5 linked regions of the Homo sapiens genome follow. The gene in region 1 interacts genetically with each later gene. Each region holds a gene or a part of one and is shown in the gene's direction. Other genes may lie near its edges.

Region 1 (5,807 bases):
TACAAAAATTAGATGTGTGTGGTGGCGGGCATTTGTAATCCCAGGTACTCGGGAGGCCGAGGCAGGAGAATCGCTTAAATCTGGGAGGTGGAGGTTACAGTGAGTTGAGGTTACAGTGAGTTGAGATCGTGCCACTGTTGAGATCCAGCCTGGGCAACAGAGCGAGACTCCGTCTCAAAAAAAAGAAGACACGCATGTGCCCACATACACTTTGACCCTCGAACATAATCACATACCTAGAGTTACAGAGGGACACAAATACCAGACATGTCACTATGAGGCAGGTATGTGTACCTGTACAGAGAGAAATAGAGACATACAGAGAGGAGGTTAAGGAGGCGCAGACAGGGAGAGAGTAGAAGAGACACCGTGAGACACATACAGAGAGGCATCCATGAAGTGACCAGCCCACAGAGATGAGGAGCATGGACAGAGGCTGACAGGAGTTGGCATGGAGGGAATTACAAATAGAGGCAGGATTGGTGGGGTGGAGAGAATCAGAGAGAAAAGAACAATGGCCAGAATGAGAGACAGACAAATTGGCAGAGAAAGAGGTGCTTAGATACAGAGACACAGAGAGAAACAAAGATAAGATAGAGAAAGAGACTGAGTGGGAGAGATACAAGAAAAGGAAAAAGTGGTGATACTGAGAATGGGAATGACCGAGAGAGAGAGAGAGAGAGAGAGAGAGAGATGTGTAGAGACTTCCATGCATGGTGATAATTTAGAATGAGAATGACCTAGAGAGAGGGAGGGGGGAGAGAGGTGTGCAGAGGCTTCATGCACGAGAGGTATACTTAGACATATACCTTTTTTTTCTTTAGGCAATCAGCTTTCTCGGGTTGAAACAAGCATATGCTTGAGACAATAGTACACACATGTAAATTGAGCACATACAGAAAGAGAACGGTGAGAATGAGGCCCAGTGAGGGGAAACACAAAGACATCCACAGGCTGAGAATGGCTGACAGATGCACAAACAGCAAAATACACACCTCAGGTAGACAGCTGCACAGAGAGACTGGCATCTGGAGATGACCTCCATCCCCATCCATGGAATGATACACCCAGACAGGTTGTTCTCTGTTTCTTAGACATTTCTCGATGTCCACCTTCTGTTGGATTGTGCCACTGAGGCCTTGCATTGAGGACCTCTGCCTGGCTGATTGTGAGTGGGAGGTTGGTGTCACGTCTAGAAAGAGGGACATACCTATCTAGCATGCTCACAAATGGAGGGGAGAGGTAGAAAGGCCCTGTAGGGGCTTTGTCAGGGCCTGGGGTGGGAAGGGAGGAGGTCAGGCTCAATTTTTTGGCTTCCCCATGGCCTGGTTACTACCCCTGGCTAGGCCTCCCTCACACAGGCTGGCCTGAGTGTTCCTGAGGGCCTCTTCTGCCCTGAGCCATCTGCTGCTATTTTGTAGGTCTTCCCAATGTTGGGAAGAGCAGCCTGATCAATAGCCTGAAGCGCAGCCGCGCATGCAGCGTGGGAGCTGTTCCTGGAATTACCAAGTAAGCACCTGCCTGCTCCTCCACTCCACAATTCCTTGACCCTACCATTTCCCCCCAACTCCCATGCCTTCAGCCCCTGTCCCTTTCCTTATCATGGACCATCCCCTGATGCTTTCCCCAGGCATGGGAGTCTCATAGCCCTCATTTTCCTGATACACCCTAGGTGTGGGCCAGGTCCCCACATGGGTGGTTCCCATTAGCGCCTTGAAGCTTCTGAATAACGATGCAAGATTGGGCTACAAATGGGAGCTCTGTTGACTGGATGAAGCAGCTGAGGCTTGGAGAGTCAAGCTTGCCCAAGATCCTGCAGCTCAGTCCCCAGTGGCAGAGGATAGATTAGAATCAGCCTCAAGTCTGTAGAGCCCCAGTCACCCCTCCTCCAACTCTACATCTCTCCACCTTCGTCTCTAATGCACCCTCCCCTCACTCCTTTACACTCCCACATCCCAGGCCCACCTTCGTGATTGGGGCCTCTACGATGCCAGGTACATCTGGGCTTTCTTCTTCCCCGCCCCAGATTCATGCAGGAGGTCTACCTGGACAAGTTCATCCGGCTCTTGGATGCTCCAGGCATTGTCCCAGGGCCCAACTCAGAGGTGGGCACCATCCTGCGTAACTGCGTCCACGTGCAGAAGCTGGCAGACCCTGTGACCCCAGTGGAGACCATCCTGCAGCGCTGCAACCTGGAGGAGGTCCGCAGCAGAGCCCTGGCTGATGCCCTGCCCTACTCTAAGGGCCCTTCATTCCTCCTCATGACTTCTCTCCTTCCTCCCTTCACCAGATTTCCAACTATTATGGCGTCTCTGGGTTCCAGACCACTGAGCACTTTCTGACGGCAGTGGCCCACCGTTTGGGGAAGAAGAAGAAGGGAGGCTTATATAGTCAGGAACAGGCGGCCAAAGCTGTCCTAGCTGACTGGGTGAGGTGAGGAGGGGGTTAGGGGTAAGGGTGAGGCCCGCTGGCAGCCTGGCTCCCCAAAGGGGCTCATCTGTGCTCATTGCCGCTGGGGCAGCTTGACTTCCTGGGTCTTGGGGCAGAGGATGGCCAAGGTGCCAGGTCATGTCCTGCTCGAGACTTTATGCCCAGTGATTATCCAGCAACTCAACTCCTTCTTGTTCAGAAGCCACTGTCTGGGTTTTCTTGTTCCGTTGCTGTTTCTGGCCTGCAAACTCATCGTCTCTTGGATTGTCATTGGTTCTCTCAGTGACAGCACCACTCATCTCCCCTATCTCCCAATGCAGCGGGAAGATCAGCTTCTATATACCACCACCAGCCACTCACACTCTGCCCACCCATCTCAGTGCTGAGATCGTTAAGGAAATGACCGAGGTCTTTGACATCGAGGATACTGAGCAGGCCAATGAAGACACCATGGAATGTAAGTGTGGGCAGGGTGGGTGCACTTGGTCTTGCACTAGTGGGGCCACACAGACCTGACAGCAAATCCCACTTTTGACCTCCCGCTTCCTTGGCCCTACTTGGGCTTTGGGCAAGTTGCTTAAGCAGCTTCAGGCCTAATTTCTTTTCTTGCAAGGTGGGGAATTCTAATCTGGCCCTGGCAGGGCGGGTTGGGGGAGGGTGGTTGTGAGCTTTTGGTAAATAACGAAAGAAAAAGTGCCTGGTACCCATTGAGGTGCTCTGGAAATGTGAAGCTCCATTCCTGTCTCTTGGGACCTGGAATGGACTGAGACATTCTCTCAAAAACTCTCTAATGTTGCCTTAGGCTTTTTCACAACCACTTCAGGTCCACTTCTCGATTTTCCTTCTTACCCCTATCGGTGAGTAAGGTACCCAAGTCACAGAAAGCTGATATTTGCCAAAAGGATGTCAGCAGAGGTGGCCTTTGACCCAGTTCTCCTGCCCTGTTGAAGACTCTTCCAGCTCACAGGAGCTGGGTGTCCAAAAGTATAGACTGCCTGGATTCAAATCCGAGCTTTGTTTCCTTTTTACTGTGTGATGCTAAACAAATTACTTCACTTCTTTGTCTCAATGATGTCATCTGTAAAATGGGGACAGTAAGTCCACCCGATAAGGTAGTTATGAGGATTTTTTTAATAATGTAAAAGACATTTAGAACAACAGTGCCTGGCATATAGTAAATAGATGCTCAGTAAATGTTAGTTTTTATTAAGATGATTATTTGCTGGGGAACAGAGATGTGACTCTCAGAAACTCCTGAGAATGTTTGCCCTCCTCAGATATTACTCTCTGCAGCCCTGGCTTGTGGCTCCCTGCTTCATTCTCTACACTGCCTAAGGAAGGTATCCAGTGCCTTCTGGGCTTGTCTGTAGACATTATGGGGTAGTTGAGGAAGCGTTGGCTAGCCTGGCTTCTAGATTCTCTGTTTTTTCTCTTGAGGTCCAGTAGTTTTCCTTCTCTGGGTCTTTTAGTGTCCTTGTGTTACACACGAGGTTAAGAGGACTTGCCTGCTTTCTAGTTTGTATTTCATGTGGCTTTGAGCAAGTCAGCCCCCTTTCTGAATTTGTTTCCTCTTTTTGTTTTTTTTTGAGGCAGAATCTTGCTTTGTTGCCCAGGCTGGAGTACAGTGGTATGATCTGGGCTTACTGCAATCTCTGCCTCCTGGGGTCGAGTGATTCTTGTGCCTCAGCTGCCTGAGTAGCTGGGACTATAGGTGTGCACCACCACGCCTGGCTAATTTTTTTTATTTTTAGTAGAGATGGGGTTTTGCCATGTTGGCCAGGCTGGTCTTGAACTCCTGGCTTCAAGCAATCTGCCTGCCTTGGCCTCCCAAAGTGCTGGGATTACAGACATGAGCCACTGTATCTGGCCTTAGTTTCCTCTTCTGTTAAATAGGGCAGTTGAGAGGGGTTTGAGTTTATGTTCTTATGATGATGCTTGACCCTGGCTGGATGTGAGGGCAAGAGGTGCTCCATCACTGAGAATACATTTTGGCCAAAGACTGAGGTCTGAGAAATTGAGAAGACAGTGAGGAACAGGTTTAGTGGTGAAGGTTTCCTGGAGGACTTGGCCCTAGTGCTGGATCTTGAAGGGTGAGTAGGGATTAGAAGGCCGAGGGTAGGGAATAGGGGCAAAATTATAGAAGCAGGCATGAGGGTAGTGGGGCACAGGGCAGTGGGCACATCTGAGGGTTGCAGTAGAGGCCAGCTCCAGGCAAGGGGCCAGAGAGAGGAGGAGAAAGTCTGGTCCTGGGGAGGGAATCCCAGTGCCTGCCATTTACAGAGCAGCATCTTGGGCCAGAGCATTACAGACATCTGCCATGTCTCACAGCAGCCCAGTGTGAAGAGGGCTTGTGGAATTCCCATTTTCCACATGAGGAAGCTGAAGCTCTGAGTCCAGCTCCCAGCAAGTGAATGTCCTACTGCAAAACCCATGCTTTTAATTCTTGGTGATGTGGCCTCTCAGCAGGAGTGAAAAAGTTCCTGCACCTGACTCCCCTGGGAAGCATCCATGTATCCTTTTCACTGAGGCCTGACCAGGGGGCTGGCAACAGAGGGGAGCCAGGGCCCTGACAGTGGTGTTGGTTGTGTTAAAGGCTTGGCCACCGGAGAATCTGATGAGCTGTTGGGTGACACGGACCCACTTGAAATGGAGATCAAGTTGCTCCATTCTCCGATGACGAAAATAGCAGATGCCATTGAAAATAAAACCACCGTGTATAAGGTACCTGTCATCTTTGTTCATGGCAACCCTCTTCTCTCCCCAGGGCTCTGGGAAGTGGTCAATCCCTTTTACCTGCCTTTCATGTGGTGAGATGTGGGTAGTTCACTCGCTCCCTATGGGCTTCTGGATGCCTGGCCTAGTATATCCTTTACCAAGCAATGACAGGTCCAGGAAACAGGCATGCTCTCTAAGGCAGCTTTCCCAGCTCTGGTTCTAGCCCATAGAACAGGTATCACTATCTAGCCACCCAGTTGTCCAACTTGCAAACGACTCTTTCTTCTCCCTAACTAGTACCAGGATTTTATTTTATTTTATTTTTTATTTTTTTATTTTTTTTTGAGATAGAGTCTCACTCTGTCACCCAGGCTGCAGTGCAGTGGCGTGATCTTGGCTCACTGCAGCCTTTGCCTCCCAGGTTCACATGATTCTCCTGCCTCAGCCTCCCAGTTAGCTGGAATTACAGGCATGCGCCACGACACCCGGCTTAATTTTTGTGTTTTTAGTAGAGACAGGGTTTTGCTATGTTGGCCAGGCTGGTCTCGAACCCCTGACCTCGGGTGATCTGCCTGCCTCGGCCTTCCAAAGTGCTAGGATTACAGGCATGAGCCACCATGCCTGGCCTGGGATCTTATACTCTGTCAGTCAGCAAGACCTAT
Region 2 (5,807 bases), on another chromosome or scaffold:
TTATGGCCAAGCACAAGCAAGCTTCGCCTTGACTAAAGGTTTGACCCCTCTATGCTTCTCTCTCTTAGAATTACATGATGCGTAATGCTGTGCTGGCAGCCATGGCGGAGATGGTGCTGCAGGTTCTCAGTGGCGATCAACTGGAAGCAGCAGCCCGAGACACCAGAGACCAGTTCTTGGATACTTTACAAGCCCATGGCCATGATGTCAACTCCTTTGTGCGGAGCCGTGTTTTGCAGCTCTTCACCCGAATTGTCCAGCAGAAGGTAACCAACTTCTATGTGGCAAAAACATATGGTACCTCTCCATATACCAGTGTAAAGAGGAATCCAGTGTTGAAGATAAATATCTGCCCCAAAGAGGTCTAGAATTCACATTTTTATTATCAGTAGTAAAAGTCTTCCTCTACCAAGGACGAGGATATCTGGCTCCCTTTAAGGACTGTAATGTGTCTTACCACTACAAGGAGTACTCCTAATCTATATTCTGTAGAAAGGGTTTTTAGAGTGAGTGGGTAGCTCAGTTTAGAGTATACTTAAAGATCATCTTGAACAAAATGGATGATGTGGGACTTGAGCAGATTCTTCTCTTCCTACCCTACACAGGCTCTCCCCCTGACACGTTTCCAGGCAGTGGTGGCTTTAGCTGTGGGACGTCTGGCAGACAAGTCAGTGCTAGTATGTAAAAATGCCATCCAGCTGCTGGCCAGTTTTCTAGCCAATAATCCTTTCTCCTGCAAGGTAAGTAGACTTGGTCCACCAAAAGAGAAGGAATTAAATGGAAACAGGGATGAAATTATGTCATTTACTGACCCTGCTATTCATTTTACCTGATAGCTTAGTGATGCTGACCTTGCCGGACCACTGCAGAAGGAGACCCAGAAATTACAAGAGATGAGGGCCCAGAGGCGAACTGCAGCAGCTTGTAAGTAGTTACTGCCTTGGAGTCCTAATGCCAGACAGGCTTCTCCTTGCAGTCAGAAACTCTAGTGAAAGAGACTAAGTGACACTCTCATTTAGCTGCAGTGCTGGACCCAGAGGAGGAGTGGGAAGCCATGCTGCCAGAGTTGAAGTCTACCCTGCAGCAGCTTCTACAGCTTCCCCAGGGAGAGGAGGAGATTCCTGAGCAAATTGCCAATACAGAGACAACTGAAGATGTGAAAGGACGCATCTATCAACTGCTTGCCAAAGCTAGTTACAAGTAGGCAAAAGAATGGGATATTCTTCGTGATCTGTTTATGTTTAGAGTTAACCTTTGAGAAACTTACATAATGTGTCTTTTAAATTAACTGCACACAGATATGCTGCCACCAGGTGATGGTAGATGTTTTCATGTAGTAATGGTCTGACCATAGGCCTAGTCCACAATTAAGCATGTGTTTCTACTTTATAAATGTTTAAAAAAACTACTGAAACAATTAAATGTTAACAGTATTATAATCAAACATGAGTCCTCCTTCAATTGAAGAAGAGCACCTATAAATAAGTTCTAGTTGTATGATCTTGAATAAGTTGCTTAACTTTCTGTGCCTCGGTTTCATTATCTATAAAATAAGAAATTGATTAGATCTTATGATCTCTAAGGACTTTCTAATTCTAAATTTCATGAACTAATAATATCAAACATGCTTAATACTACCTTAATCTTCAAACCTAGTATGAATCCTGATCTTAGAGAAAAGATTTCTCCTAGTGTTTTTGTGACTCTAGAACTTAACAACAAAAGCCCTTACAGCCGTCAACAAGTTTTTTTTTTTTTTTTTTTTTTTTTTTTTTGAGATGGAGTCTCACTCACTCTGTTGCCCAGGCTGCAGTACAGTGACACGATCTTGGCTCACTGCAACCTCTGCCTCCCAGGTTCAAGCAATTCTCGTGCCTCAGCCTCCCAAGTAGCTGGGACCACAGGCGCGCACCACCACACCGCACTAATTTTTTTATTTTTAGTAGAGACAGGGTTTCACCATATTGGCCAGGCTGGTCTTGAACTCCTGACCTCAGGTGATCCACCCATCTCAGCCTCCCAAAGTGCCATGATTACAGGCGTGAGCCACCGCACTCGGCTGCCAACAAGTATTCTTAAACCTCAGCCACAAGTTATTTGTTATTTATTTACTTCTTACCTAATTGGGCTGAATTTTTTTTTTGGAGACGGAGTCTTGCTCTGTTGCCCAGGCTGGAGTGCAGTGGTGCGATCTTGGCTCACTGCAACCTCCACCTCCTGGGTTCACGCCATTCTCCTGCCTCAGCCTCCCGAGTAGCTGGGACTACAGGCGCCCGCCACCACGCCCGGCTAATTTTTTTTTTTATATTTTTAGTAGAGACGGGGTTTCACCGTGTTAGCCAGGATGGTCTCAATCTCCTGACCTCGTGATCCGCCTGCCTCGGCCTCCCAAAGTGCTGGGATTACAGGCTTGAGCCACCGTGCCCGGCTTGGGCTGTTTTTAGAAGGCTAGAGAGTGGCTTGTTTGCCCTATGACTCCCTTATGTTACTTTAGTGTCTCTCTTTTTATTTTGCTAAAGCAAAAATAGAGACTATAGTTTTATAAGTGCATGTTCCACCAAGCATTCTAGTATTTTCTCCTGTCAATTAGAAAAGGATTGTTTGTTTTTGAGACAGAATCTCACTGTTGCCCAGGCTGGAGTACAGTAGCGCAATCACAGCTCACTGCAGCCTCTCACTGTAGCCTCAACCCTGCTGGGCTCAAGCGATCTCCCACATTAGCCTCCTGAGTAGCCTGGTTAATTTATTTATAATTTGTAGCTGGGATTACAGGTACACACCACCAGGCCTGGCCTTTGCCAGCCTGGGCAACGTGGCAAGAAGATAACATGTAGACAAGCAGTCAAACATGTATTCTTTTTTTCCCCCTTTTATATGACTGATAGAATTCTCTGCCCACTGATCTACCATCTTGTTTTTTTCACTTAACTATGTGTCTCAGTGGTTTTTAAAAATATTTATGGCTGGGTGCAATGGCTCATGCCTGTAATCCCAGCTACTTGGGAGGCTGAGGCAGGAGAATTGCTTGAACCCAGGAAGCAGAGGTTGCAGTGAGCTGAGATTGCTCCGCTACACTCTACCCTGGGTGACAGAGGAAGAGTCCATCTCAAAAAAAAAAAAAAATTTATAGATGGCCAGGTGCAGTGGCTCACACCTGTAATCCCAGCACCTTGGGAGCCCAAAGCTGGTGGATCTCTTGAGGCCAGGAGTTTGAGGCCAGCCTGGCCAACGTGGCGAAATGGCGAAACCCATCTCTGCTAAAATTACAAAAATTGGCCAGGTATGGTGGCACGTACCTGTAATCCTAGCTATTTGGGGAGCTGAGGCATGAGAATCACTCAAACCTAGGAAGCAGAGGTTATAGTGAGCCAAGATCATGCCACTACACTTCAGCCTGGGTGACAGAACAAGACTCTGTCTCTAAAAAAAAAAATATATATATATATATACACATATATATTTATACATAAATAGTTTCCCACTCTCCTCTTTTTTTGAGAGAGAGAGTGTCTCACTCTTTTGCCCATGCTGGAGTACAGTGGTATGATCACAACTCACTGCAGCTTTGATCTCCCAGGCTCAAGTGATCCTCCCACCTCAGCTCCCTCGAGTAGCTGAGACCACAGGCACACACCATTACACCCACAGGCACACACCATCACACCCACAGGCACACACCATCACACCCACAGGCATACACCATCACACCCACAGGCACACACCATCACACCCGGCTAACTTTTTTTACTTTTTGTATAGTTGGGTCTCCCTGTGTTGCCCAGACTGATCTCAAATTCCTGGGCTCACGTGTCCCCATTATTTTTTATGACTACATAGAATCTTATTGTCTGGATGTGCCTGAATTAACTAATTATTGAAAGTTTATTGTTTCTAAACTTAGGAAAGTTTTTAAACAGGTGTTTGGAGTAGGTTTATGATTTTAAAACTTTAAAAAGCCTTATTGGAGTTTTTTTGAAGACTGTAGTAATGCCTTGTAGGTTCAGAAATAGGAAAAGTGTTTGCAGATGAGCAGTCAGGGGAAAAAAATAGGCAAAGTGTTTTGAGCCCTACCCCTTAGTAGGTGCTGTAACAACTTTTTAAGCATGTTAAGTGCTCCTTTTCTCTGGGCAGTAGGTCCAGGGACTTGATAGAATCATGAGGTAAGCTCCCTTACAAACGGCTGCAGTGACATTCTTCTGGGTACTGACAGGCTGGTGTTCTTTCAGAAAGGCCATCATTCTCACTCGAGAAGCCACAGGCCACTTCCAGGAGTCCGAACCCTTCAGTCATATAGACCCAGAGGAGTCAGAGGAGACCAGGCTCTTGAATATCTTAGGACTTATCTTCAAAGGTAATCATTTTCCTTCTTCAGTCAATAAATAACACATGTCAACTGGTATTTACTGAGCATTAACTTTATGCCATCATTGGCCTGGTTAACAGAACCTGGTGCTGAAGAGCCCAGAGATGAATTGGCATTACTTTTGCTCTGGAATGGAAGCAGCCCACGGGCCTAAGATTGATAGTCACAGGGTGACTGTCCAGACCATAGCGGTCTTTAGGTATGGTTTTTGAGAAATTTAGATATTTTAGAGTAAGTTTTAATTTCATATCTTCACATTGTGAAAAGAGATATCCAGGGCCAGATGTCGTGGCTTATGCCTGTAATCCTAACACTTTGGGAGGCCAAGGCAGGAGGATTGCTTGAGCCCAGGAGTTGAAAATCAGCCTGAGCAACATGACGAAACCCCCATCTCTACAAGGGATACCAAAAAAAAATTAGCCAGGTGCGGTGGCACGCACCTGTAGTCCCAACTGCTCAGGAGCTGAAGTGAGAGAATCACCTTAGCCCGGGGAAGTTGAGGCTGCAGTGAGCGGTGATCATTGCCACTGCACAGCCTAGGCAACAGAGTGAGACCCCATCTCAAAAGAAAAGAAGAAGGAAAATAAATAAGTAAATATCCAGGAATGTTGACAGCTGTTGGATTCCCCTGTATCCCCTTGAACGAAACCATCCTGTACTTCTCTAACTCCTTAGGCCCAGCAGCTTCCACACAAGAAAAGAATCCCCGGGAGTCTACAGGAAACATGGTCACAGGACAGACTGTCTGTAAAAATAAACCCAATATGTCGGATCCTGAGGAATCCAGGGGAAATGATGAACTAGTGAAGCAGGAGATGCTGGTACAGTATCTGCAGGATGCCTACAGCTTCTCCCGGAAGATTACAGAGGCCATTGGCATCATCAGCAAGATGATGTATGAAAACACAACTACAGGTATGCCAGAGTCCCTTTCTATAAGGACAGCCTTGGGGTTCTTTTGGATTTTTTAATTTTTTAAATTTTTATTAACAATAGAGATGGGGCCTTCCTTTGTTGCTCAGGCTGGTCTCCAACTCCTGGGCTCAGGCAATTCTTCTGCGTCAGCCTCCCAAAGTGCTGGTATTACAGGTGTGAGCCACTGCACCCGGCCATGGATCTTGGAGTTCTTTTCCATATTTTATTGATATATCTATCTGCTCCTTTAAAAGGCAGGGGTTCTCGGCTGGGCGCGATGGCTCATGCCTGTAATCCCTACAAAACTGGGAGGCCAAAGCAGGAAGACAGGTTGAGGCCAGGAGTTCGAGAGCAGCCTGGGCAACATAGCAAGACCCCATCTCTACAAAGAAACAAAAACTAACTGGGCGTGATGGCACGCACCTGTAGTTCCAGCTACTCGGAAGGCTGGGCAGGAGGATTGCTTGAGCCCGGGAGTTTGAGGCTACAGTGAGCTGTGGTCATGCCACTGCACTCTAGCCGGAGCAAC
Region 3 (6,595 bases), on another chromosome or scaffold:
AAAGCTATAGTTATAAGAGCTGTGGAGGATGAGGATTCTTTCATTCATTTAATAAATCTTTATAAGGCACCTGCTATGGGCCTGACATTGTGCTAGGCACAGTCTCTGCTGTTATGCAGATTTTAGTCTAGTGATAAATAAACAGGCAATTCATGAGATGAAATTTCCAAGGCAAGGGGTGCTTCAGGGAACATCTAGTGGGGAGCATTTAACTCAGACTTGGGCTGTCAGGAAGTGATGACTAAATGGTTGGTAGCTAAAGGAAGAGGGTATGGAAAGTGAGGGAGGCAGCCTAGAGGCAGGAGAGCGACTGGTAGCCTAAGGTTCCTTCTTAACTTTTTCCTTTCATCCAACAAATTTGTATTGACCCCATATCATATGCCAAGTATTGTTTTAGGACATCGTTGAATTTGTATTTCAAAACTAGTTGTTGAAAAATGTAAAAAAAAAAAAAAAGTTCTGTGTGTATGTGTTTGTGTGTGTGTGTATTCCCTTCCCTTAAACCCTTAGGTAGACACACATCTGGGCTGCGTTCCCCATCCCCTTAAAGGGTCCCCAATCCCTTAAAGTGCATTGTAGATGCTTAATGTTTACTGGGTTAATAAATTATCACGTGAGTAACTAATCTGTGGTTTTTTTTTTTTTTTTTTTGGAGCTGGAGTCTCACTCTGTCACCCAGGCTGGAGTACAGTGGTGTGATCTCGGCTCACTGAAACCTCTGCCTTCCGGGTTCAAGCAATTCTCCTGCCTCAGCCTCCTGAGTAGCTGAGACTACAGGCACATGCTGCTAAGCCCCGCTAATTTTTTTTTTTTTTTTTGTATTTCCAGTAGAGGTAGGATTTCACCGTGTTGCCCAGGCTGGTGTCGAACTCCTGAGCTCAGGCAATCCGCCCACTTAGGCCTCCCAAAGTGCTAGGATTACAGGCGTGAGCCACGGCGCCCGGCCATTTGTGTTTGTTGTTGTTGTTGTTGTTGTTTTTTGAGATGGAGTCTCACTCTGTCTCCCAGGCTGGAGTGTAATGGCATGATCTCAGCTCACTGCGACCTCTGCCTCCTGGGTTCGAGTGATTCTCCTGCCTCAGCCTCCCAAAATTCTGGGATTACAGGAATGAGCCACTGTGCCCGGCAAGAAATGAATTTTAAATTTTATTTATTTTTAATTAATTTGAATTTAAATTGCCACATGTGGCTAGTGGCTACTGTATCAGACACCATATATCTCTGTATGGTAGCATAGTCTTTTTTTTGTTTTGTTTTTGAGACGGAGTCTTGCTCTGTCGCCCAGGCTGGAGTGCAGTGCTGCCATCTTGGCTTACTGCAATTTCCACCTCCCGGGTTCAAGTGATTCTCCTGTCTCAGCTTCCCAGCAGCTGGTATTACAGGCGCGTGACACCACGCCTGGCTAATTTTTGTATTTTTAGTAGAGACGGGGTTTCACCATCTTGGCCAGCCTGGTCTCGAACCTCTGACCTCGTGATCCACCTGCCTCGGCCTCCCAAAGTGCTGGGATTACAGGTGTGAGACACCGTACCCGACCAGTCTTTTTTTTTCCCTTGAGATGAAGTCTCGCTCTGCCGCCCAAGATAGAGTGCAGTGGTGCGATCTCGACTCAGTGCACCCTCTGCCTCCTGGGTTCAAGCAATTTTCCTGCCTCAGCCTCCCGAGTAGCCGGGACTACAGGTGCACGCCACCATACCCAGCTAATTTTCGTATTTTTAGTAGAGACGGGGTTTCACCATGTTGGCCAGGCTGGTCTCAAACTCCTGACCTCAGGTCATCCGCCCACCTCGGCATCCCAAAATAATGGGATTATGGCCACCGCCCCTGGCCCTGTTTGGTAGTGGTCTAAATAGTCTGAGTCAGGCAATGGGACCAGGTAGGCTTTCAGTCTCTTGCTTAAAAATGGAGATTGTTGGCCGGGCACGGTGGCTCACGCCTGTAATCCCATCACTTTGGGAGGCTGGGGCGGGCGGATCACGAGTTCAGGAGATCGAGACCATCCTGGCCAATATGGTGAAACCCCGTTTCTACTGAAAATACAAAAATTAGCTGGGCGCGGTGGCGCGCGCCTGTAGTCCCAGCTACTAAGGAGGCTGGGGCAGAAGAATCGCTTGAACCCGGGAGGCGGAGGTTGCAGTGAGCCGAAACCGCGCCACTGCACTCCAGCCTGGAGACAGAACGAAACTCCCTCTCAAAAAAAAAAAAAAAAAAAAAAAAAAAAAAGGAGATTGTTGGCTAGGTACGGTAGCTCACGCCTGTAATCCTAGCACTTTGGGAGGCCGAGGGAGGCAGATCACGAGGTCAGGAAATCGGGATCATCCTGGCTAACAAGGTGAAACCCAGTCTCTACCAAAAATACAAAAAATTAGTCGGTGTGGTGGCGCGCGCCCATAGTCCCAGCTCCTCGGGAGCCTGAGGCAGGAGAATTGCTTGAATCCGGCAGGCCGAGGTTGCACTGAGCCAAGATCGCGCCACTGCACTCCAGCCTGGGCGACAGAGCGATACTGCGTCTCAAAAAAAAAAAAGGAGATTGTCAATACGCGGTTATACAATGTCTAAATGCTGGGCTGTTGAATGCCACTGACAGTAAAAAATATCTGTGCATAGTGGCAAGCCATAAGTAGCACCTCAGTCACCGTATAGTAATTAACTGCGTATCCTGGCATCCCGACAGGCAACCAGCTCTACCGGGTGAAAAGGTTGATGGCCAAGGGACTCCAACCTAACCAGGGCGCACTCGCGGCATTCTGCGATCCCGCACTGCATCATGGACTTTGTAGTTCAACATGCCAGTGACGTCACTGCCGGTTCCCCTCTGAGTGGGCCTATCGGGTAGACTTCCGATAACCCGTTTTTCTCTGGGAATTGTAGTCAGTTAGCGCCTGCTGGGTGTCTGCTCGGGTGGTCTGGGAACTACAATTCCCGGCGGGCTGTGAGATGCCTTGGCTGTAGTTAGTAAGGAGCCGGATGATTGCCTCAGCAGGTGTGAAGCGTGTGCTTTAGTTTCGTGGGAGGCCTGGCATCCCCGAGAGGGAGGGGAAAGGTAACCACTCCTTTGTGGAGGTCGCCAGGGTCATTGTCGTGGATTTGCACAGTCGGCTGGGCGGTGCAATGGCGGTGAGTTTGAGCGAGAAGAATCCGCAGGGGCCCTGGAGCCGGACTGGCCAGTCTCTAGGGGCTCTCCATGTGCTGTCCTGAAGGGAAAGTCCTTTTCTAAAAGAGAGCCACGCTTAAGGCGTGCCTTTCGTAGAGACTTTGCTTTTTCTTGCTAGTTTATGAACCACGAACTGATGTCTGTTAACTTTACGGAGTACTTGGATATCATATTTGTTATTTCTCTGGAGTTTCTAAAATCGAGGTGGAGAGCCGGGCACGGTGGCCCACGGCTGTAATCCCAGCACTTTGGGAGGCCGAGGCGGGTGGATCATTTGAGGTCAGGAGTTCGAGACCACCCTGGCCAACATGGTGAGACCCCGTTTCTACCAAAAATACATAAATTAGCCGGGCGTAGTGGTGCGCGCCTGTTAACCCAGCTACTCGGGAGGCTGAGGCAGGAGAATTGCTTGAACCCGGGAGAGGGAGGCTGCTGTGAGCCAGGATCGCGCCACTGCACTCCAGCCTGGGCGACAGAGTGAGACTCCGTCTTAAAAATAAAATAAATAAATAAACAAACAAATAAAGCCGAGGTGGAGAGAGGAGTATGTAAGTTGATTCCTACTTACAGCAAAAAAAAAAAAAAAAAAAAAAAAAAAAAAAGAAAAAATTGAGCGCCTCTCCGTAAAACAGACAAAAATCTCTCTTTTCATAGTGTTTATGTGTGTGGGTAAAATACATTGTAAAATATTGTGTCAGGTGCTGATAAATGCTGTGGGGAAAAAATAGAGCAGGAAGGGGTGCTAGGGAGTGTACGGTGGGGTAGTACAGTTGCAATTTTTAAAAATTTTTTTAAATTTGGGAGATGTTCTCACTCTGTGACCCAGACTGGAATGCAGTGGCGTGATCATGGCTCACTGCAGCCTGGACCTTAGGGCTCAAGCGATCCTCACACCTCAGCCTCCCCACAGCTGGTACTGCAAGCGTGCTCCATTACACCCTGCTAATTTTTTGTATTTTTAGTAGAGACAGGGTTTCGAACTCCTGGGGTCAAGCGATCCTTCTGTCTCAGCCTCCGAAAGTGCTGGGACTACAGGCATGAGCCATCCCGCCTGGTTTTATTTTTTTTTGTTTTTTGTTTGTTTGTTTGTTTTTTTCTTGAGACGGAGCCTTGCCCTGTCGCCAGGCTGGAGTGCAGCGGCGCGATCTCGGCTCACTGCAACCTCCTCCTCCCAGGTTCAAGCGGTTCCCCTGCCTCAACTTCCCGAGTAGCTGGGACTACAGGCGCGCGCCACCATGCCCAGTTAAATTTTTTGTATTTTAGTAGAGACAGGGTTTCACCACATTGGCCAGGATGGACTCAATTTCCTGACCTCGTGATCTGCCCGCCTCGGCCTCCCAAAGTGCTGGGATTACAGGCGTGAGCCATGGCGCCTGGCCTGTTGCAATTTTTAAAAGGATGATCAAGCAAGGCTTTGCCAAAAAGGTGGCAAAAACGAGGTAAGAGAGCAACCTATGCAACTATAGGAAGAAAGAGATTTCCAGGCAGGGGCAACAGTGTAAGTGAAAAGCAGGGATCCCGGGTAGAAGCCAGGGATGCTTCTAAACATCCTGCAGTGCACAGGACAACCCCTGAAAACAAAGAATTATTTGGCCCAAAGTGTAAGTAGTGCCAAAGTTTAGGAACTCTGATTTAGTTATATAGCCTTTTGTTACCAGTGAGGAGGTTGAGTCTCAGATTGATCAAATGACTTGCTCAAGGTTATACAACAAGTTGGTGTTTGGGCCAATATCAGATTTTATTATACTTGATCTTTGAGGTTTTGAGAAACAAGTTTTTCTGAGAAACAGAAAACTCAAATAAAAGCTTTCTTGCATTTGGCATACTCAGTACAATGAAAAGAAACACATAGTTCTAAGTAATTTGTAAAAGACTTGCTTTCATAGTCTTCTTTACAATGGGTGACATGATCATATTTTTTATTTTTATTTTTATTTTTTTTTTGAAATGGAGTCTCATTCTTTCCCAGGCTGGAGTGCAGTGGTGCCTCCCAAGTTCAAGTGATTCTCCCACTTCAGCTTCCTGTGTAGCTGGGACTACAGGTGTGCGCCACCATGCGCTGCTAATTTTTGTATTTTTTGGTATAGTTGTGGTTTCACCATGTTGGCCAGACTGGTCTTGAACGCCTGACCTCAAGTGATCCGCCCACCTTGGCCTCCCAGAGTGCTGGGATTACAGGTGTGAGCCAATGCACCTGGCCATATTTTTTATTTTTTGAGACAGGGACTCACTCTATCAACCAGGCTGCAGTGCAGTAGTGCAATCATAGCTCACTGCAGCCAGCCTTGATCTCCTGGGTTCAAGTGATCCTCTGGCCTCAGTGTTCCCATGTCCTGCTCATGGTAATTTTTAGGTAAAAGATATTTGTTACATAACTTCTGTGTCTGTGGCATTGTACTTTGTGCTAAGGTGACTATAAACAATTTAAAAGTTCCTGCCTGTTGAGAATTTACAGCCCAACTGCATAAATGTCTTAAGATCATTGGTTGCATTTAACAGAAGTCAACTCAAGTTGGTTAAGGAGGAATTTAGTAATAAAGTGGAAGTTGGCCAAAGGCGATGGCTCAAGCCTGTAATGTCAGCACTTTGGAAAGCCAAGGCTGGTGGATTGCTTGAGCCTAGGAGTTCAAGACCAGCCTAGGCAACATGGTGAAACCCTGTCTCTACAAAAAAATACAAAAACTATCTGGGTATGGTGGTGCATATGCCTGTAGTCCCAGCTATTCAGGAGGCTGAGATGGGAAGATTGATTGAGCCCAGTAGGTCAAGGCTGCGGTGAGCTGGTGCTTGCACCATTATGCTCCAGCCTGGGTGGCAGAGGGAGACCCTCTCTCTCTCACACAGACACACACACATAAATACAGTGAAATTTCATATTACCCATGACCGTAGGGTAGGAGATATGACTAGGCTTCATGAGGCCCTACATACTTTTGCCTTTGTGGGTGGGTCCTTTCCTCTGTAAAAATATTAGAAATTATATTTTACAGACCGGGCTGGGTGGCTCATGCCTGTAATCACAGCACTTTGGGAGGCTGAGACGGGTGGACCACCTGAGGTCAGGAGTTTGAGGCCAGCCTGGCCAACATGGTGAAACCTCGTCTCTACTAAAAATACAAAAATTAGCCAGGTATGGTGGCACGCACCTGTAATCCCAGCTGCTCGGGAGGCTGAGGCAGGAGAATTGCTTGAACCCCAGAGATGGAGGTTTCAGTGAGCTGAGATTGGTCTTGCTGTGTTGCCTAGGCTGGAGTGCAGTGGCTCCATCTTGGCTCACTGCAACCACCGCCTCTTGGGTTCAGGTAATTCTCCTGTCTTTGCCTCCCGAGTAGCTGAGATTATAGGCGCATGCCAACGCATCCGGCTAATTTTTGTATTTTTAGTAGAAATGGGGTTTCGCCATATTGGCCAGGCTGGTCTTGAACTCGTAGCCTCAGGTGA
Region 4 (6,408 bases), on another chromosome or scaffold:
GGCGTGGTGGCGCACGCCTGTAATCCCAGCTACTCAGGAGGCTGAGGCAGGAGAATCGCTTGAACCTGGGAGGTGTAGGGTGCAGTGAGCCGAGATCGCACCACTGCACTCCGGCCTGGGCGACAGAGCAAGACTCTGCCTCAAGAGAAAAAAAAAAAAAAACCTAAATGTTCCAAAACTCAAAACGCTCCAAAATCTAACTTTTTAAGCACTGACATGACTCTCAAAGGAAATGCTCATTGGAGTATTTCAGATTTTGGATTTTCAGATTAGGATGCTAAAGTGGTAAGTATATATACGTAAAACACTTTCATATTCTGCTTTTCTTCATTTAATACGGTGGTTGCCTTTCTGTCAGTCATCGTACATTAGCATCAGTTTGCTGTGTGATATTCCATTGCAGAGATAAATCTTGTGATATTTTTAACCAGTCCTCCATTGCTGGATGGTGCAATGAACATCTGTTAATACATATCTTTTGCTCATGTGTCTGATTATTTTAAGGGTAAGATTTCAGCCTGTGGAAAGGGAGTAAGTGTAAGTTTGAGCAGAGGAAAGGAGACCTAAAAGAATAAGGCGAGTCTGGGAACAGTTCACTAGGTTATTTTAGGGCATTGGACCCCCGTAGGCGAGAAATGCTTGCAGACATCTAACGATGACGCTTAAATGGAAGAGCAGTTTGAGAAGATTTAGTATCATTTAATTTTTTATTTTTTATTTTTTTTGAGACGGAGTCTCGCTCTGTAGTCCAGGCTGGAATCTCGGCTCACTGCAACCTCCGCCTCGCGGGTTCAAGCGATTCTCCTGCTTAAGCTTCCCGAGTAACTGGGACTACAGGCGCAAACCACCACGCCCGGCTACTTTTTTTGTATTTTTGGTAGAGACGAGATTTCACCAAGTTGGCCAGGTTGGTCCTGAATTCCTGACTTTATTTATTTATTTTCTGAGACGGAGTCTCGCTCTGCCGCCCAGGCTGGAGTGCAGTGGCGCGATCTCGGCTCACTGCAAGCTCCGCCTCCCAGGTTCACGCCAGTCTCCTGCCTCAGCATCCGGAGTAGCTGGGACTACAGGCGCCCGCCACCACGCCCGGCTAATTTTTTTTTGTGTGTGTGTGTATTTTTAGTAGAGACGGGGTTTTACCGTATTAGCCAGGATGGTCTCATCTCCTGACCTTGTGATCCGCCCGCCTCAGCCTCCCAAAGTGCTGCGATTACAGGCGTGAGCCACCGCACCTGGCCTAGAACTCCTGACTTTAAATGATCCATCCGTTTTGGCCTCCCAAACTGCTGGGATTACAGGCGTGGGCCACCGCGCCCAGTCAATCTCATTTAATCTTAATGCCAGGTACTGTTCTAACACTTTTCTATGTATAATTTATTTCACTTGCAGGTACTATTATTATTCCCATCTATAGGCCAGAAAGCTGAGGTACGAAGTTTAATTACCAGAGTTACTTATCTTCGTTAAAATCCAAGCAGTCTGGGCTACAAACAATTATACCTACTTTGCAGTCAAGGAACCAAGCTGAGATGTTGAGCTGAAAACCCAGGTCTCAGACTTCAAAGCTTTCTACACAAGAGTCGACGGTGGCAGTAAAAATTAATGGGGGCTTGATCTATCCCTCCCACCCCCAAGAAAAGTAAAAAGCAGGAGCTGGGACCAGAGAAAACCTCCACGGAGTCCTTATCCCCTAAATATAAGAGGCATTTAACGTTTAGCATTGCTGACCTGCAATCAGGCTTCAACTGTGAGTAGCCAGGCTCTAAAGCTTGATAACTGAATTCCAAAAAGCGCGCGAGCCTCCAGGCGAAACAGCTTCCCGCCTTCCAGCCGGTTGGAGCCGGCTCAGCAACAGCCTCTCCAAGCCAGGGTAGTGACGTCAGCCCAGGAATTGGGCCCGCCCCGGGATCTCGCTGCTTTCTGCACGCTCGGAATAACCAGAGTCGCGAAATTAGCCCCGCCCACTGCCCCGGAAGTTAATGCGGAAGCCACACACCTCCTCCTCGGCCGGCAGGGGCGCAGCCATTTTAATTCATATTTGAGTGGGCGGTGGCGATTGGTGTTGGCGGTCTGGCTCAGCTGGGCAGGGGGTAACTTTACTGATTTGGGGGTGGTTTTTAGTTTAATTTTTCTTTTCTAGCTTCCCATCGACGGTCAGTGCGCACGTTGTAATCAGCTGAGGCCATGTCAGGAGACGGAGCCACGGAGCAGGTGAGGAAGGAGAGTGGTGGGGCCTCGTGGCGACCTCTTCTCCACGTCTGTTCCTCCGACTGCTCCAGACATGTTCGGCTGAGGAAGGAATTGGGTCTAGTGAACCCGGGGGACAGGGTATATAGAAGAGTGGTGGGAATGGGGAGCAAGATCTAAGATTTAATTTTTTTTTTTTTACTTCTCTCTCTTAGGCATGAATACGAGTAAATACTTGATTTAGACAATAGCGGTAGGCTGCTTCGTCCTATTTAGATTCATGGGACTACTCCAGATGGGATGCTTTCCTTTGATATCGTTTTGGTATTAGAGTGGATAGGAATTATTTTAACGTGCACCCGACGTTTTAGAAAAACTTGACAGTGTTTCTTTTACCCCGCCAAATATACTGTACCCAGAAATAGGTTACTAGTTTGAGAAATATTTGAGACAAAGCTAATCTGGAGAATTAAGACTTAATGAGAGCGAGTGAAGAAAGAAGCAAGTTATGCTGAGGTTTTGGGAATTTTGTGGCTTTCTTTCGTTTTCTTTTCTTTTAGCCACATTTCGTTTTCATTTTTCCAGCTACATAAACATTGCAGGTATAAGTTGAAAATGAGAAGTCTGTTTTGGCCACTGTAAATAAAAGCATCTGTTTTAATAGTAAATATGAGTGACAACTAAATATTTTAAAATTCACACTTTTAGGTTAGATCAGTGTGATTTGTTTCTTTTGCTCTTTGTATTCAGAATTTTGTAGGATAGTATTTACCTTTTAGTGTGAAAGAGGAAGCTAAATAGTTATGAAAAATGCCATTAAATGTGTTTTTCGATCTAAGTCCTGGTGTGTTTAGATAAATACAGTTTCTAAAATGGAGGCTAGGTAGCCTGCAGTCTCAATTTCCTGAAATTTCCCATTGCCATAGCAACGACATGCACTTAGGTTTTCGTTTTTCAGGTTCCCTAGCTTATAACGTGGAAGATGTTATTGGAGGTTGGCAGAGATGAGGCAAAATAGGAGCGTTCTATTGCATAGTCTGTAAGACTGTAGATTTCATTATGTCGGCAGTTTGATTAAATTGTTTTGTGTTTGCCCGAGGACTGGTTTCAGTCCAGAAATCTTCGCACTATTTACATTTTACATAGTGTTAGCATGCCCAAGCATGCAAAGTCTTAAAATTACTGTATCAAAACTGTTTACCCCTTTTCTGATCTAGTATTTGTTATCTGAAAGTGAAGGACTAATGAACTGAGGTTTCATTGAAAGTTTTCGAAATTCATTGTTAATTCTTAGAATTTATCTAAAATTACAAAGACACGGAAATGTTACCATGACCTCTTGAATGTTTTAGAACTGTGGTGTTTCAGTGGGACAGATGGTGGTGAAAATTTATAGAAAAATAATTTCTCCCAAAGGTTTTATTGTGCAAAGTTTAGAACATAGAGAAAAGTTGAAAGAAAAGTGCAGTGAACACCTGTAGGACAACTCTTCGCCTGGAATCAACAGCTGAAAGCCTTGCCATATTTGCTTTATCTCCCCATGCTGATAGATTGAGAACAGAGTCTTTGTCACTCACACTAGAGTGCTGTGACGCCATCACAGCTCACCATAGCTTCGACCTCCCTGCGCTCTGTGATCCTGCCACCTCAGCCTCCTCCGTAGCTGGGAGTACAGGCGCGCGCCACCATGCCCAGCTAATTTTTTTTTTTTTTTTTTTTTTTTTTTTGAGATGGAGCCTTGCTCTGTCGCCCAGACTGGAGTGCAGTGGCGCGATTTCGCCTTACTGCAGCCTCCGCCTCCCGGTTCAAGCGATTCTCCTGCCTCAGCCACCCCAGTAGCTGGGATTACAGGCGCCCACCACCATGCCCCGCTAATTTTTGTATTTTAAGTAGAGACGGGGATTTTGCCACGTTGCCCAGGCTGGTCTCGAACTCCTGACCTCAAGTGATCCGCCTACCTCTGCCTTCCAAAGTGCTGGATTTACAGGCGTGAGCCACCGTACCTGGCCTAATTTTTGTATTTTTTTTGTAGAGACAGGAATTCACCATGTTGCCCAGCCTGGTCTGGAACTCCTGGGCTCAAGCGATTCACCCACCTCAGTGTCCCCAAGTGTTGGGATTACAGACAGGCACGAGCCACCACGCCTGGTCCACGCATGTTTATTTGAAAGTATTTTGACACATTGCAGCCCCAAGTATTTCAGCATTCTCTTATAAATAAGAGCAAAATGTTGTTACATAACCACCATACCATTTCCCCACCCAAGAAAATAGTATTTCTAAAATCTAGTTCTTTAAATTTCCCCATTTGTCCCAAGAATGTGATTTTTTTTTTAACCAGAATCAATCTAGATTTACATATTGAATCATTTACTTCTGTCTCTTAAGTAGTCTCACCATTCTTCTCCCCTGGGGCTGTTGTCTATTCGAAGTGTCAAGGACACTTAACACTGCTTTTCTGGGTGTATTTGTTTTTTGTTGTTTGTTTGCTTGCTTGCTTTTGGTTTGGGGGTTGATGATGTCATTTAACTTGTCCCTTCATCTGTATTTCCTGAAAACTTTACAGTTAGGTCTATACTCAGCCTTGATATTTGGGTTAAGTATTTTTGGATAGAATACTTAACATTATATCATTACATTAGCAGGTACTTCTGCTGGGTTCTGTTAGGATGGTTAAGTTTGATCACTTGGTTTAGGGTGATCTCATTGTTAAGGGTCATGTTCCCCTTTGCAGTTAATAATCTGTGAGTTGATAACCGTTTTCTTTAAAATCACCTTATACCTAGTTATCAATTGATAAATCTTGACTAAATCAGCTCTTACATTGGAAGTAGCAAATGGTGGTTTTGTTTTGTTTTTAAAACCCACAATTCTGTTGGTCTGTGTCTGTTTACTGGCTCATACTTTCTGCAAAAAAGACTTTTTTTCTTCCTAAAGATTAAGTATCGCTATGGATTCATGGATTTCTCTTAGTGTGTTAGTATCAGTGATAGCCATTTTTCTTTTGCACACTCAACTTGTCCAAACCTTTTTGGTGGTTCTTATATCTTTTCCTTAAGTCTGAAAGGCAATTTAGACATCTGATTATCAACAAGGAAGTCATCTTCATATAGCCTTTTCTTTAACTTTTTAATAATACATTTCAAACATGTAAGAAAAACAGTATAATATATGAAGTACCTGTCATAGAGCTTCAATTTATGGCTAATCTTGTTTCCTCCATGACTTCATTTGCTTCTCTCACCCCCATTACTTCGAAGCAAATCCTAGATACTGTATTCAGCTTCAACTAAAATAACCATTAAATAACACCTTAAGGATGGAAAATATGAATGAGCTGTACCTTGCTTGATATTTAAGACAATATTGAAAATCTGGAGGAAAAGAGAGTATCCAAAATAACCTGAAATCATGGATGAGAAAAATAAACTCAATGAGACTAAAGAATAATAAGAAAAAAATTAAAACCATTGAATCATGGATTTGCTTTGGAAAAATGCCAAGGGATGGGGTGGACAAAGAGTCCTACAAGATGCAGGTGTAGATTTAGCCTTTTAGTAGCATTGAAGTTCAAGTTTGTAGAATAAACCTGATACTATCTTAAATTTATTACTAAAATATATGGATAGTCATTTTTCTCTTGGTGCTAAGATTTGTGATTTGTGCCCCCTAACAGAGGGAAATTATTGCAGACAAGCAAAATCACTGCTAAAGGTTTATTGCTGTGATTTTTTTTTCAACTCTAGTAGGGAAGTTCAATTTTGCATGTAGAGAGCTATTGGAATTACCTTATAGTGTTCAAGGATCTCTTCTGAAGCTCCTTGCTTATTGTTTTTGCCAGTTTAATGGTGAAAAAACTATTTGCATATAGGTTTACCCCCCTAACAAACATATGATTTCTGTGTGGAATTATGGCTGTATTATTTATTTCATGGTTTTGTTTTTTTGTGTTTGTTTTTTGTTTTTTTGAGATGGAGTCTTGCTCTGTTGCCCAGGCTGGAGTGCAGTGGCACGGTCTCGGCTCACTGCAACCTCCGCCTCCCAGGTTCAAGCAATTCTCCTGCCTCAGCCTCTTGAGTAGCTGGGATTACAAGCACACGCCACAATGCCCGGCTAATTTTTTTGTATTTTTAGTAGAAATGGTGTTTCACCATGTTGACCAGGCTGGTCTTGAACTCCTGACCTCAAGTGATCTGCCTGCCTCAGCCTCCCAAAGTGCTG
Region 5 (5,807 bases), on another chromosome or scaffold:
CCACCTTGGGGAGTCCAGCAGTTACCAGGGCACAGGGTCAGTGCAGTTTCCAGGGGACCAGGACCTCCGTTTTGCCAGGGTCCCCTTAGCGTTACACCCGGTGGTCGGGCAACCATTCCTGAAGGCTGAGGGAAGCAGCAATTCTGTGGTACATGCAGAGACCAAATTGCAAAACTATGGGGAGCTGGGGCCAGGAACCACTGGGGCCAGCAGCTCAGGAGCAGGCCTTCACTGGGGGGGCCCAACTCAGTCTTCTGCTTATGGAAAACTCTATCGGGGGCCTACAAGAGTCCCACCAAGAGGGGGAAGAGGGAGAGGAGTTCCTTACTAACCCAGAGACTTCAGTGTCCTGAAAGATTCCTTTCCTATCCATCCTTCCATCCAGTTCTCTGAATCTTTAATGAAATCATTTGCCAGAGCGAGGTAATCATCTGCATTTGGCTACTGCAAAGCTGTCCGTTGTATTCCTTGCTCACTTGCTACTAGCAGGCGACTTACGAAATAATGATGTTGGCACCAGTTCCCCCTGGATGGGCTATAGCCAGAACATTTACTTCAACTCTACCTTAGTAGATACAAGTAGAGAATATGGAGAGGATCATTACATTGAAAAGTAAATGTTTTATTAGTTCATTGCCTGCACTTACTGATCGGAAGAGAGAAAGAACAGTTTCAGTATTGAGATGGCTCAGGAGAGGCTCTTTGATTTTTAAAGTTTTGGGGTGGGGGATTGTGTGTGGTTTCTTTCTTTTGAATTTTAATTTAGGTGTTTTGGGTTTTTTTCCTTTAAAGAGAATAGTGTTCACAAAATTTGAGCTGCTCTTTGGCTTTTGCTATAAGGGAAACAGAGTGGCCTGGCTGATTTGAATAAATGTTTCTTTCCTCTCCACCATCTCACATTTTGCTTTTAAGTGAACACTTTTTCCCCATTGAGCATCTTGAACATACTTTTTTTCCAAATAAATTACTCATCCTTAAAGTTTACTCCACTTTGACAAAAGATACGCCCTTCTCCCTGCACATAAAGCAGGTTGTAGAACGTGGCATTCTTGGGCAAGTAGGTAGACTTTACCCAGTCTCTTTCCTTTTTTGCTGATGTGTGCTCTCTCTCTCTCTTTCTCTCTCTCTCTCTCTCTCTCTCTCTCTCTCTCTCTCTCTGTCTCGCTTGCTCGCTCTCGCTGTTTCTCTCTCTTTGAGGCATTTGTTTGGAAAAAATCGTTGAGATGCCCAAGAACCTGGGATAATTCTTTACTTTTTTTGAAATAAAGGAAAGGAAATTCAGACTCTTACATTGTTCTCTGTAACTCTTCAATTCTAAAATGTTTTGTTTTTTAAACCATGTTCTGATGGGGAAGTTGATTTGTAAGTGTGGACAGCTTGGACATTGCTGCTGAGCTGTGGTTAGAGATGATGCCTCCATTCCTAGAGGGCTAATAACAGCATTTAGCATATTGTTTACACATATATTTTTATGTCAAAAAAAAAACAAAAACCTTTCAAACAGAGCATTGTGATATTGTCAAAGAGAAAAACAAATCCTGAAGATACATGGAAATGTAACCTAGTTTAGGGTGGGTATTTTTCTGAAGATACATCAATACCTGACCTTTTTTAAAAAAATAATTTTAAAACAGCATACTGTGAGGAAGAACAGTATTGACATACCCACATCCCAGCATGTGTACCCTGCCAGTTCTTTTAGGGATTTTTCCTCCAAAGAGATTTGGATTTGGTTTTGGTAAAAGGGGTTAAATTGTGCTTCCAGGCAAGAACTTTGCCTTATCATAAACAGGAAATGAAAAAGGGAAGGGCTGTCAGGATGGGATAATTTGGGAGGCTTCTCATTCTGGCTTCTATTTCTATGTGAGTACCAGCATATAGAGTGTTTTAAAAACAGATACATGTCATATAATTTATCTGCACAGACTTAGACCTTCAGGAAACATAGGTTAAGCCCCCTTTTACAAAGAAAAAGTAAACATACTTCAGCATCTTGGAGGGTAGTTTTCAAAACTCAAGTTTCATGTTTCAATGCCAAGTTCTTATTTTAAAAAATAAAATCTACTTATAAGAGAAAGGTGCATTACTTAAAAAAAAAAAACTTTAAAGAAATGAAAGAAGAACCCTCTTCAGATACTTACTTGAAGACTGTTTTCCCCTGTTAATGAGATATAGCTAGATATCGGTGTGTGTATTTCTTTATTATTCTCTGGTTTTTGATCTGGCCTTGCCTCCAGGGCCAAACACTGATTTAGAAAGAGAGCCTTCTAGCTATTTTGGCATTGATGGCTTTTTATACCAGTGTGTCCAGTTAGATTTACTAGGCTTACTGACATGCTATTGGTAAATCGCATTAAAGTTCATCTGAACCTTCTGTCTGTTGACTTCTTAGTCCTCAGACATGGGCCTTTGTGTTTTAGAATATTTGAATTTGAGTTATTGGGCCCCACTCCCTGTTTTTTATTAAAGAACGTGAGCCTGGGATACTTTCAGAAGTATCTGTTCAATGAAAAAAAGTTGGTTTCCCATCAAATATGAATAAAATTCTCTATATATTTCATTGTATTTTGGTTATCAGCAGTCATCAATAATGTTTTTCCCTCCCCTCTCCCACCTCTTATTTTTAATTATGCCAAATATCCTAAATAATATACTTAAGCCTCCATTCCCTCATCCCTACTAGGGAAGGGGGTGAGTGTATGTGTGAGTGTATGTGTATGTATGATCCCATCTCACCCCCACCCCCATTTTGGGAGTCTTTTAAAATGAAAACAAAGTTTGGTAGTTTTGACTATTTCTAAAAGCAGAGGAGAAAAAAAAACTTATTTAAATATCCTGGAATCTGTATGGAGGAAGAAAAGGTATTTGTTAATTTTTCAGTTACGTTATCTATAAACATGATGGAAGTAAAGGTTTGGCAGAATTTCACCTTGACTATTTGAAAATTACAGACCCAATTAATTCCATTCAAAAGTGGTTTTCGTTTTGTTTTAATTATTGTACAATGAGAGATATTGTCTATTAAATACATTATTTTGAACAGATGAGAAATCTGATTCTGTTCATGAGTGGGAGGCAAAACTGGTTTGACCGTGATCATTTTTGTGGTTTTGAAAACAAATATACTTGACCCAGTTTCCTTAGTTTTTTCTTCAACTGTCCATAGGAACGATAAGTATTTGAAAGCAACATCAAATCTATACGTTTAAAGCAGGGCAGTTAGCACAAATTTGCAAGTAGAACTTCTATTAGCTTATGCCATAGACATCACCCAACCACTTGTATGTGTGTGTGTATATATAATATGCATATATAGTTACCGTGCTAAAATGGTTACCAGCAGGTTTTGAGAGAGAATGCTGCATCAGAAAAGTGTCAGTTGCCACCTCATTCTCCCTGATTTAGGTTCCTGACACTGATTCCTTTCTCTCTCGTTTTTGACCCCCATTGGGTGTATCTTGTCTATGTACAGATATTTTGTAATATATTAAATTTTTTTCTTTCAGTTTATAAAAATGGAAAGTGGAGATTGGAAAATTAAATATTTCCTGTTACTATACCACTTTTGCTCCATTGCATTTACTTCTTAATCTGTACCCCCTGAGCATATCTAATCATGTATAAAGGACGTTTTTCCTCCACTTTATCTTAGGGGTTCTCTGTCTCAGAATCATTATAGACTCATTAACTCCCCCTCCCAGCAAAAGGTTATCAGGATTTGAAGAGGTGCTTGAAAACGCTAGACTAGGAACTAGAGAATAAATGAGTTGGGAAAAACCATGAAATGTGATTTTTTTAAAGTAGAAAAGTTATACAAATAATGGTACCAAACCATCAAAAGAGTTGAGCTTCATGTACCCTGACTCCTCCTGACAGGAGAGGTAAGTGGGTTTGAGCTCAACTGTCATCAAGGGAAGTTGGTAAGAGGCTGTTTAGACCCAAAGGATAGTCTTAAACCAGACTTCACCACCCACCCTACCTCAGTTCCCATGTTATTACATGCAGAGTCAGCATGGGGATTAGTGTACCTACCTTTGCTGAGATTTCCCGATGCGTTGCCAATCCAGAAAGTGAATCAAAAAGTTGTTTAAAAGTTAAAATCTCTATTGTTTCCAAAATCTTTCCCATCTCCACCTGAAGACAGAATTGCTTCCCCTTCTCTTTCATGGCTTAGAACACAGGATAAATTTGCCCCTGTGGTATGTGCTGCAATCCTGCTAGTTATGACAAATGGGCAGAGGGCAGATAAAGTCCACTAGGAGAAAGAAAGAAGGGCGATAGGTATCTGAAGTTGTAAATGGGGTGAGCAAGTCATACAGGAAGGTTAAGGGATACACCAGAGCAAGGGAAATTAGAAGGAAGTTGAGTTCAAAAACTGGTGATGATGAGAGTTGCTAACCTGTTTTTGAATCCTCAAAAGTTTAAGTGGTGTTCCCTTTCCTGTGGGCTAAGTCACATCTTATAAGGAGAATGGAGAGCTCAAGATTGTTCCAATTTCTGGAATTATGTGTTCCTGGTTGCAAGTTCATGATTGGGGTATAAACTTCAACCTACTAGAAAATACTGTTTTCACTTCATAGCAGTGAAAATTGAAGCAGTGTCTTTTCAATTCTGGGCCTAAAGGCTGAGGACCTTACTAACCTAGATTTTTCTGTCATACCCAAGGCCATTTCTAACCAGAAACCATGCTGTTCAGTACCTCAATTTCTTAGGCACTGTTCTTTCCTAGATAGGCATCCTTAACTGTATGGTTAATGCCTCAAAGAAGTAAACAGTTAATGCTCTTGGTGCTGATCTTGGGATTTCCATTGTTATTAAAGATTGCCTCATAGCTTGACTGTTTTTTAACTATGGAGTGACTTTTCATATCCTAATCATCCATAAGGGCTAAGTGGAATGGGAATGGGGAATTCCTCAAGGGAGGAAGCACTCAACCATTCCAAGGGAGAGGTGGAACTGCTGAGTCTTCTGGTTGTCCTGAGAGGCAAGGTGAGCATTCCTGGACACTTTGGTTAATTTTACTGTCCAGGTGTGACAGTTCTTATCTGTAGGAACACCTCCAGTGTTCCTAATTAGGAATTCTCTCAAGTAGGAGATTACTCCAAGCCAGAGTTGAAAGACTGGGGGAGTACGACACCTGAAGGAATTACTGGTGGTACTCCTTACTGTACGCAACTGTCTCTCCATCTCCTATCCACCCACTTCTTTTCCCTATTTCTCTTTCTCCCCACTCACCATTCAACTGGAATAATTTAGGCCTACCATCGGTATTGATTGCTTAACCCTACCAGGTATTTAGAGTTACTGCTATTTCATTGTTTTGAAAGGTAATGAGAGTCAATTCAGAAGACAAATGTCTATCTGGATCCTCAACCTACTGTAGTGGAAAGTGAAGGAGAAAGTAAACTAACCATACTTTCTTATTGCTAGGAGCTATGAAAGGAGCTTTTCATTTGTGTTATGTAGGGTACAAAAGATTATTTTGTACCCTGGCCAGGAAAGGCAGGGAGTCATCTTTCTGTCTTCCTGCTTCCCCTCTTTCAACCTTCACCTTTTTATCCTCTTCTTCCATATCCTGAGATTGTTGCTTTTGCTGATGACATTTCTAAGCTCAGTTGCAGATGGTGTCTGTGGGAAGTAAAGCTTGGTGAGAAGAGGGCTCTCTGGTATCTAAGAGAAAGCAGATAAGAGTTGCTTTAATGTCCTGGTGATTAATCACTGGGGTGCCAAAACACTTTGACCACTGGATTTCTCTCATATCTCTTATCTCAAAAAATTAGTACTCCAAGGCTGAGAGAAAGAGACTG

The links.
Region 2: changes in GNL3L (region 1) and NCAPD2 together harm fitness more than expected from each alone (negative genetic interaction), as found in Homo sapiens cells (one large-scale study listed by BioGRID).
Region 3: changes in GNL3L (region 1) and LARS1 together harm fitness more than expected from each alone (negative genetic interaction), as found in Homo sapiens cells (one large-scale study listed by BioGRID).
Region 4: changes in GNL3L (region 1) and CSTF3 together harm fitness more than expected from each alone (negative genetic interaction), as found in Homo sapiens cells (one large-scale study listed by BioGRID).
Region 5: changes in GNL3L (region 1) and CDK12 together harm fitness more than expected from each alone (negative genetic interaction), as found in Homo sapiens cells (one large-scale study listed by BioGRID).

What each region holds. Positions count from the first base shown.
Region 1 is NC_000023.11:54,549,542-54,555,348, forward strand, and holds part of GNL3L (guanine nucleotide-binding protein-like 3-like protein), read left to right. Parts: intron 1-1,421; coding exon 1,422-1,509; intron 1,510-2,026; coding exon 2,027-2,201; intron 2,202-2,290; coding exon 2,291-2,433; intron 2,434-2,750; coding exon 2,751-2,887; intron 2,888-5,023; coding exon 5,024-5,151; intron 5,152-5,807.
Region 2 is NC_000012.12:6,516,760-6,522,566, forward strand, and holds part of NCAPD2 (condensin complex subunit 1), read left to right. Parts: intron 1-68; coding exon 69-266; intron 267-605; coding exon 606-740; intron 741-836; coding exon 837-924; intron 925-1,019; coding exon 1,020-1,200; intron 1,201-4,226; coding exon 4,227-4,351; intron 4,352-5,038; coding exon 5,039-5,278; intron 5,279-5,807. UniProt on the Homo sapiens protein: Regulatory subunit of the condensin complex, a complex required for conversion of interphase chromatin into mitotic-like condense chromosomes.
Region 3 is NC_000005.10:146,179,010-146,185,604, reverse strand, and holds the start of LARS1 (leucine--tRNA ligase, cytoplasmic), read left to right. Parts: upstream 1-2,954; 5' UTR 2,955-3,111; coding exon 3,112-3,117; intron 3,118-6,595. UniProt on the Homo sapiens protein: Aminoacyl-tRNA synthetase that catalyzes the specific attachment of leucine to its cognate tRNA (tRNA(Leu)).
Region 4 is NC_000011.10:33,157,102-33,163,509, reverse strand, and holds the start of CSTF3 (cleavage stimulation factor subunit 3), read left to right. Parts: upstream 1-2,029; 5' UTR 2,030-2,184; coding exon 2,185-2,211; intron 2,212-6,408. UniProt on the Homo sapiens protein: One of the multiple factors required for polyadenylation and 3'-end cleavage of mammalian pre-mRNAs.
Region 5 is NC_000017.11:39,530,986-39,536,792, forward strand, and holds the end of CDK12 (cyclin-dependent kinase 12), read left to right. Parts: coding exon 1-331; 3' UTR 332-3,559; downstream 3,560-5,807. UniProt on the Homo sapiens protein: Cyclin-dependent kinase that phosphorylates the C-terminal domain (CTD) of the large subunit of RNA polymerase II (POLR2A), thereby acting as a key regulator of transcription elongation.